2 linked regions of the Homo sapiens genome follow. The protein of the gene in region 2 purifies or fractionates together with the protein of the main gene of each other region. This does not show direct contact. Each region holds a gene or a part of one and is shown on either strand. Other genes may lie near its edges.

What was found.
Region 1: the proteins of DCDC2B (region 2) and TNFAIP2 fractionate together in Homo sapiens (co-fractionation; one large-scale study listed by BioGRID). This does not show direct contact.

Annotation. Positions count from the first base shown.
Region 1 is NC_000014.9:103,129,669-103,133,483, reverse strand, and holds part of TNFAIP2 (tumor necrosis factor alpha-induced protein 2), read right to left. Parts: intron 3,745-3,815; coding exon 3,630-3,744; intron 3,483-3,629; coding exon 3,360-3,482; intron 3,170-3,359; coding exon 3,069-3,169; intron 2,433-3,068; coding exon 2,334-2,432; intron 1,846-2,333; coding exon 1,722-1,845; intron 735-1,721; coding exon 612-734; intron 123-611; coding exon 1-122. UniProt on the Homo sapiens protein: May play a role as a mediator of inflammation and angiogenesis.
Region 2 is NC_000001.11:32,212,049-32,214,665, forward strand, and holds part of DCDC2B (doublecortin domain-containing protein 2B), read left to right. Parts: intron 1-21; coding exon 22-153; intron 154-441; coding exon 442-588; intron 589-705; coding exon 706-745; intron 746-2,428; exon of another isoform or gene 2,429-2,617.

The sequences.
Region 1 (3,815 bases), on a different chromosome or scaffold from region 2:
TTGGCCAGGATGTACCCAGCCAGCTGCTGCTGCTGCTCGGCCGTCTTGAGGACCAGGCGCCCCTTGCTGAGTTGGATGATGTACTCCTTCACCAGGTGCAGGTGCAAGGCCTCCATGAGCTCCTGGGAGGGCAAGCAGCCAGGGGCGTGTGAGCTGTCTGCTGATGGGGAGCTCGCCACCTCCCTTGAAGCCTTGTAGCCAGGCCTCCAGAGAGAGGCAGATGCCAGAGCAAAAGACTGCACACGTGCTCGTGCGTCCACATGTGTGCGTTCACATGCTCATGCGTTCACATGCGTGTGTGTTCACATGTGCATGCGTTCACGTGTTCACATGTGTGTGTTTACATGCTCGTGCCTTCACGTGTGTTCATATGTGTGCATGTGTTCACATGCTCGTGCATTCACATGTGTGTGTTCACATGCTCGTGCGTTCACATGTTCGTGCCTTCACGTGTGTTCACATGTGCACGTGTTCACATGCTCGTGCATTCACGTGTGTTCACATGTGCGCGTGTGAGCACATGTGCGTGAGTGTACACAGACGTGCTAGTGTGCGTGTCCGGGCTGCCCCCAACTCCCCAAGACCCAGCCACCAGCCCAGAGCCTCCTCACCTCCCGGAAACAGCCCTGCAGCTCTGAGAACTCAGGCAGCCTCGTGTCTACAGTGGCGATGATGTTTTCCAGGGTCTCCACAGGGGCCGCCCAGCGGGTGTGCGTGAACCTCTTGAACAGTGGCTGAGACAGGAGAGGCAGGATGTCTAGTCACGCCCTGGAGAGGAAGGGCTGCCAGCCGCAGACACGCAGACACGCAGACACAGACACACACCGACACATGTGCCTGGTGGAGGGGCGGGGGGCACTCAAGGACTCCCAGGGAACCCGGGCCAACCTCAGGTCCCTGCTCACAGACAGGAAGTGGGAGCCGGCTCTGTGCACCCTTATCCAAGGTCACCCAGTGCGGCTCAGGAGCCAGGAGAGCCTGTCTGCCGGCCCGGAGGCCAAGTCCACTGCCACTTAAATAAATAAATTCCTTCATAAACAAGACCTTGTGCTTGGCTGGGCCAGGGAGATCAGTACCAGGGGATGTGGGGTCACCGCTCGGGCTTCCACCACACTCAGGCCACCCATGGCCGCTAGTCCCTGACACCGGGAAGAGAACCTCTCCCCTTCCTTTTGAGAGACCCCCCACTTTACACCCTGCTAAAGGAACTACTTGTTTTCACAGCATTTTCTGTGGATTTCTTGGCCCATAACAGATATAACCCCAGCTGCCGATGACCCTGAGCCTCAGTTGCTGGGAGTCAGGCGCGGGGATGGGGGTGGATAGGAGGGGCTGAGGGGATTGAAGGAAAGGTGTCTGCAGGCTTGGGACTGGGCTGTGTCTGAATCGGGGAGGGGCAGTGAAACTTTTCCAGGCCCTCCCAGCCCCAGGCGGCCCCTCCCAGCCCCAGGCGGCCCCTCCCAGCCCCAGGCGGCCCCTCCCAGCCCCAGGCGGCCCCTCTCAGGTGAAACCCCAGGACATGATCGGCGGAGTTCAGAGCCTGCTAGGGTCCCCAACCGGGCATCACCGCTGCACCAGAGCTGGCCCACGGTGCCGTCCACAGGCCTGGAGCGTGTCTTCCCCACATCTTTGCTTCTGCCACTCCTCCCTGGGGGCACCTCCCAGTCCCTCCCTGGGAACCCCCCAACACTGGGCTCCTGAGGGCAAGAGGCTCCCGCTACCTTCAGGTCCTCATGCAGGTTCTGGAGCAGGGTGTCAAAGCCGTGGCTCTTGAGCTCACCCAGGGGGCCCAGCAGGAGGCTCAGGGTGTCCTGGGGTACCTGCCAATTCTGCTCCATGGACATCCTGGAAGGTGGAGGCAGAGAGGTCACCCCAGCCCTGCTCAGCCTATAGCCCCATACCCAGGGAGCCAGACAGCCCCCTCTCTTCACTCTAGAACCCTCAATGGCTCCCCATTCTCTATGGGATCAAGTCCTCCCATCCATGTTCTCCATGCCCTCAGGACACTCCTCCACTACATCCCCTTGTAACTGGGGGCAAGTGAGCCTCCTCCAGTGGTTTGCCCATCTGCCTAATAGACAGATCACTATACCTACTTCACAGGGTTGCTTTAAGGATAAGATAATGGGTGAAACATCTGCCTGTGTGCTTGCCCCAGCCAGCACTTGGGAAATGTTTGCTGCTGCTGCTGCAGGCCGTGGAGTCCTCACACATGTTGCTGGTTTGAATTCCACTTCTTGGCCTAAGCAGCTCCTCCTCCCTCCACCTTCCAGCTCCCCTCTCCTGCCCGCTGAGTGACTCCCACTCCCGCAAGCCCCTCCCAACACTCTCACCGGAAGGACAGGCAGTTGTTGATGTTGGCAATAACATTGGCCCTGTAATTCGTCAGCTGCTTGCCTCTCTCCAGAAATTCATTAAAGGCGCGCTGGTAGCTGGCGAAACCAGAAGGGGCACATTCAGGACCAGCCCAAACACTGGGACCACAGCAGCAGCCTCCCTGCCCTCCCTGCCAGCTCCTGGGGTTCACTTTTCTGTTTGGCTGCCCATAGCCAAGGGAGGGGCCGCTAGCCCCTGGGCATCATGGAACTGGCTTCACAAGCTAAGGCTTGGGCTCCTGAAGAGGGTACCAGCCCATCTCTGCTGCTCCCAGGCCCTCTCTAGAGTTGGGAGACCAGGTAGGAGTGAGCGTGTGGTTGGCTGGAGAAGCCCTCAGAGGTCGAGAGGGAGAGAGCAGAGAGAATTCAGGTGGTGGAGACTAGGAGTGTTGTATGAAGGGGTGGCGGGGTCTCAGTCCCTCCTGGGGTATCCTCTTTGAAGCTAGAGGCTGCTCTGCTGAGAGCTTTGCTGATGGGGTGGGCGCAAGAGGCTCCCACGTTGAATCCTGGTGGAGGTCAGACCACCTGAGGCTCTCAGTGCCCTGGCTGAGTGGGAAACAACTCCTGGCTCAGAATGACAGGGACAGGGGTAGAGGGCGGGGATCCAGCTCAGCTCCCCACCTGAGGCACTAGGGAGGGGCCGTGGCTCTGAGAGCGGTGGCTACAGGGACCCCATCCTGGGCACACACCCACCTCCTCAGGAACGCAGGCAGCTCCACCAGCAGCACCCGCTTTATCTGTGAGCCCAAGTCCAGCGTGATGCTCTCGGCCTTGGCCTGGGCCTGGGAGGTGATCTGCAGGGTGGTGGTGGGTGAGCTGAGCAGGGGCTCGCCTGGACAAGGGGGCAGGGGACGGGGAGGAAACAGGCGGGAACAGAGGGGGTGCCCCGAGGTGGGCATGGGTATGCACACAGGACGGAATGTGCGTGGGGCTCCCCATGCACGTGCACGGGCGGTACGTGTGCCCTGGGGCAGATTGCAGTACCTGGATGATGTCGATGGCCAGCTCGCTGTGGCAGTGGCCGTCCAGCCTCTGGGGAGGCACATCCTCAGCCCAGCGCCGTGCCTCTAGCTCCAGAGCTCGGTCCATCAACTCCCTCACATTGGCCTGGAGGAGGAGGGGCAGGTCACTGGGGCACTATCCCTCACCTCGCTCACCTGGAAGACCCGTCAAGCTCCCTGCCCATGTCCTGTCTGTCTCCGAGCCTCTCCTCTGCTGCCTCCCTGCCCCTCCCTGGCCCAGGTGGAGACTCACCGCCTCACTGGACAGGAATGTGGCCTCCAGCAGTCGGATCTGCCTGGGGGGCAGGAGGCTCCCGAGCCCCATACCCTGCAGCTCACCCACCAGCTTGGGGCTGTTGATGATGTCACTGCAGGCAGGGGAGGCTGGCATGAGGACAACTATACCAAATCAGCACCACCACTCAAGCTAGAGCCCAGG
Region 2 (2,617 bases):
TTACCAGGCTTTTTGTCTCAGTGTGTTCAGGAATGGGGACCTGGTAAGTCCCCCATTTAGTCTGAAGCTGTCCCAGGCTGCCAGCCAGGACTGGGAAACTGTGTTGAAGCTCCTGACTGAGAAGGTCAAGTTGCAGAGTGGGGCTGTGTGCAAGTGAGTATGGGGACTGCGAGGGCCCAAAAGTCCCCAAAGAGAGCCTCGCCACTGGCTTCAGCTGTGGCTGAGGATGAAGAGGCAAAAGGAAAGCATGTTCCCCCACATGGGACTTCCCCCTATGCCACTGGGAGAGGGCCCTCTGCCCAGCCCTCAGAGGCAGGGTAGAGCCTGGGTGCCTAGAGGCCAGAGGGCACCTTGGAATAGCTGCACCCACCCCTTCAGTCTGCTGAATGTGAAGAAGCATCGAGTCTACCAGCCCTTATCCTCCTCACCTCTCTCTCCCAGACTCTGCACCCTAGAGGGGCTCCCACTGTCAGCAGGGAAGGAGCTGGTAACTGGCCATTACTATGTGGCTGTCGGAGAGGATGAGTTCAAGGACCTTCCCTATCTGGAGCTGCTGGTGCCCAGCCCCTCCCTGCCCAGGGGCTGCTGGTATGTATGTGGGAGGTGGAGCGGTAACAGGCCGGGCAGAGGAAGCCACCCTCTGGGTCTGTGTGCTTTGACTCTATGCCCTCTGCCCACTACAAGCCTTTCCTTTTGTCATTGTAGGCAACCTCCAGGCTCGAAGTCTAGGCCCCACAGGCAGGGGGTAGGTGACGCAGGGGACAATGAGGGGTGGGAAGAAGGGGAGTGACTGGCTGACAACTCTTCTGGCACAGGCTCTGACCTTATTTCACTGCATCCTCTCTTTTTTCTTTTTCTTTGAGACAGAGTCTTGCTCTGTAGTCCAGGCTGGAGTGCAGTGGCAGGATCTTGGCTCACTGCAACCTCCGCCTCCCAGGTCCCGGTTCAAGCAATTCTCCTGCCTCAGCCTCCTGAGTAGCTGGGATTATGGGCACGCTCCACCATATCCAGCTAATTTTGTATATTTTTAGTAGAGATGGGGTTTCACCATGTTGGCCAGGCTGGTCTTGAACTCCTGACCTTGTGATCTGCCCGCCTCAGCCTCCCAAAGTGCTGGGATTACAGGCGTGAGCCACCGTGCCCGGCCTCCTTTTTTCTTTTAAATATAGAGATGAGTCTCACGATATTGCGAAGGCTGGTCTTGAACTCCTGGGCTCAAGCAATCCTCCCACCTTGGCCTCCCAAAGTGCTGTGATTACACTATGCCCAGCCTGCATCCTCTTAATAATTTTTTTTTTTTTTTTTGAGACGGAGTTTCACTCTTGTTGCTCAGGCTGGAGTGCAATAGCACAATCTCAGCTCACTGCAACCTCCACCTTCTGGGTTCAAGTGATTCTCCTGCCTCAGCCTCCCGAGTAGCTGGGATTACAGGTATGTGCCACCACACCCGGCTAATTTTTTTTTTTTTTTTTTTTTTTGAGATGGAGTCTCGCTCTGTTGCCCAGGCTGGAATGCAGTGGCGCAATCTTGGCTCACTGCCAGCTCCGCCTCCCGGGTTCATGCCATTCTCCTGCCTCAGCCTCCCGAGCAGCTGGGACTACAGGCACCCACCACCATGCCCGGTTAATTTTTTTTGTATTTTTAGTAGAGACGGGGTTTCACCGTGTTAGCCAGGATGGTCTCGATCTCCTGACCTCGTGATCAGCCCACCTCAGCCTCCCAAAGTGCTGGGATTACAGGCGTGAGCCACCGCGCTCAGCCACACCCGGCTAATTTTTTTAATTTTTAGTAGAGACAGGGTTTCTCCATGTTGGTCAGGCTGGTCTCAAACTCCCTCAGGTGATCTGCCCACCTCAGCCTCCCAAAGTGCTGGGATTACAGTCGTGAGCCACCTCGCCTGGCCACTCTTAATAATCTTGTGAAAGAAAGATTATCCCCATTTTCCAGAGGTGGAAACTGAAGCTGAAAAGTGAAGTGGGCCTTGGGCACGATGGCTCACACGTGTAATCCCAGCACTTTGGGAGGCTGAGGAGAGTGAATTACCTGAGGTCAGGAGTTCAAGACCAGCCTGGCCAACATGGTAAAACCCCATCTCTACTAAAAGTACAAAAAAATTAGCTGGGCATGGTGGTGGGTGCTTGTAGTCCCAGCTACTTGGGAGGCTGAGGCAGGAGAATCACTTGAACCTGGGAGGCGGAGGTTGTGGTGAGCTGAGATCACACCACTGCACTCCAGCCTGGGTGAGAGAGTAAGACTCAAGTCTCAAAAAAAAAAAAAAAAAAAAAAAAAGTGAAGTGATTTGTTCAGGGTGACAGAGTTATTGAGTGGCAGGGGCCAGACCAGAATTCTCATCTGATTTGCAGGACTTAATACCTTCTTGCTAGGTTGGACGCTGGGAGAGAGAATTGGTATATTTGGCACAGCAGGGTCCAAGGGAACTTATATTATCCAGCTCTAAGCCCTCCCAAGAAATGAGCCAGTGAGCATGGGGCATGGTGGTGGGGGTGGGGAAGCACAGTCTGGTTTCACTGGGCATCGAGGAGTGCCAGGCATCTACTGCTCTGTCCCTGGATAAGTCAGGCTGGTGGGAAGAGGCAGCAAGGAGGGAGGACGTACT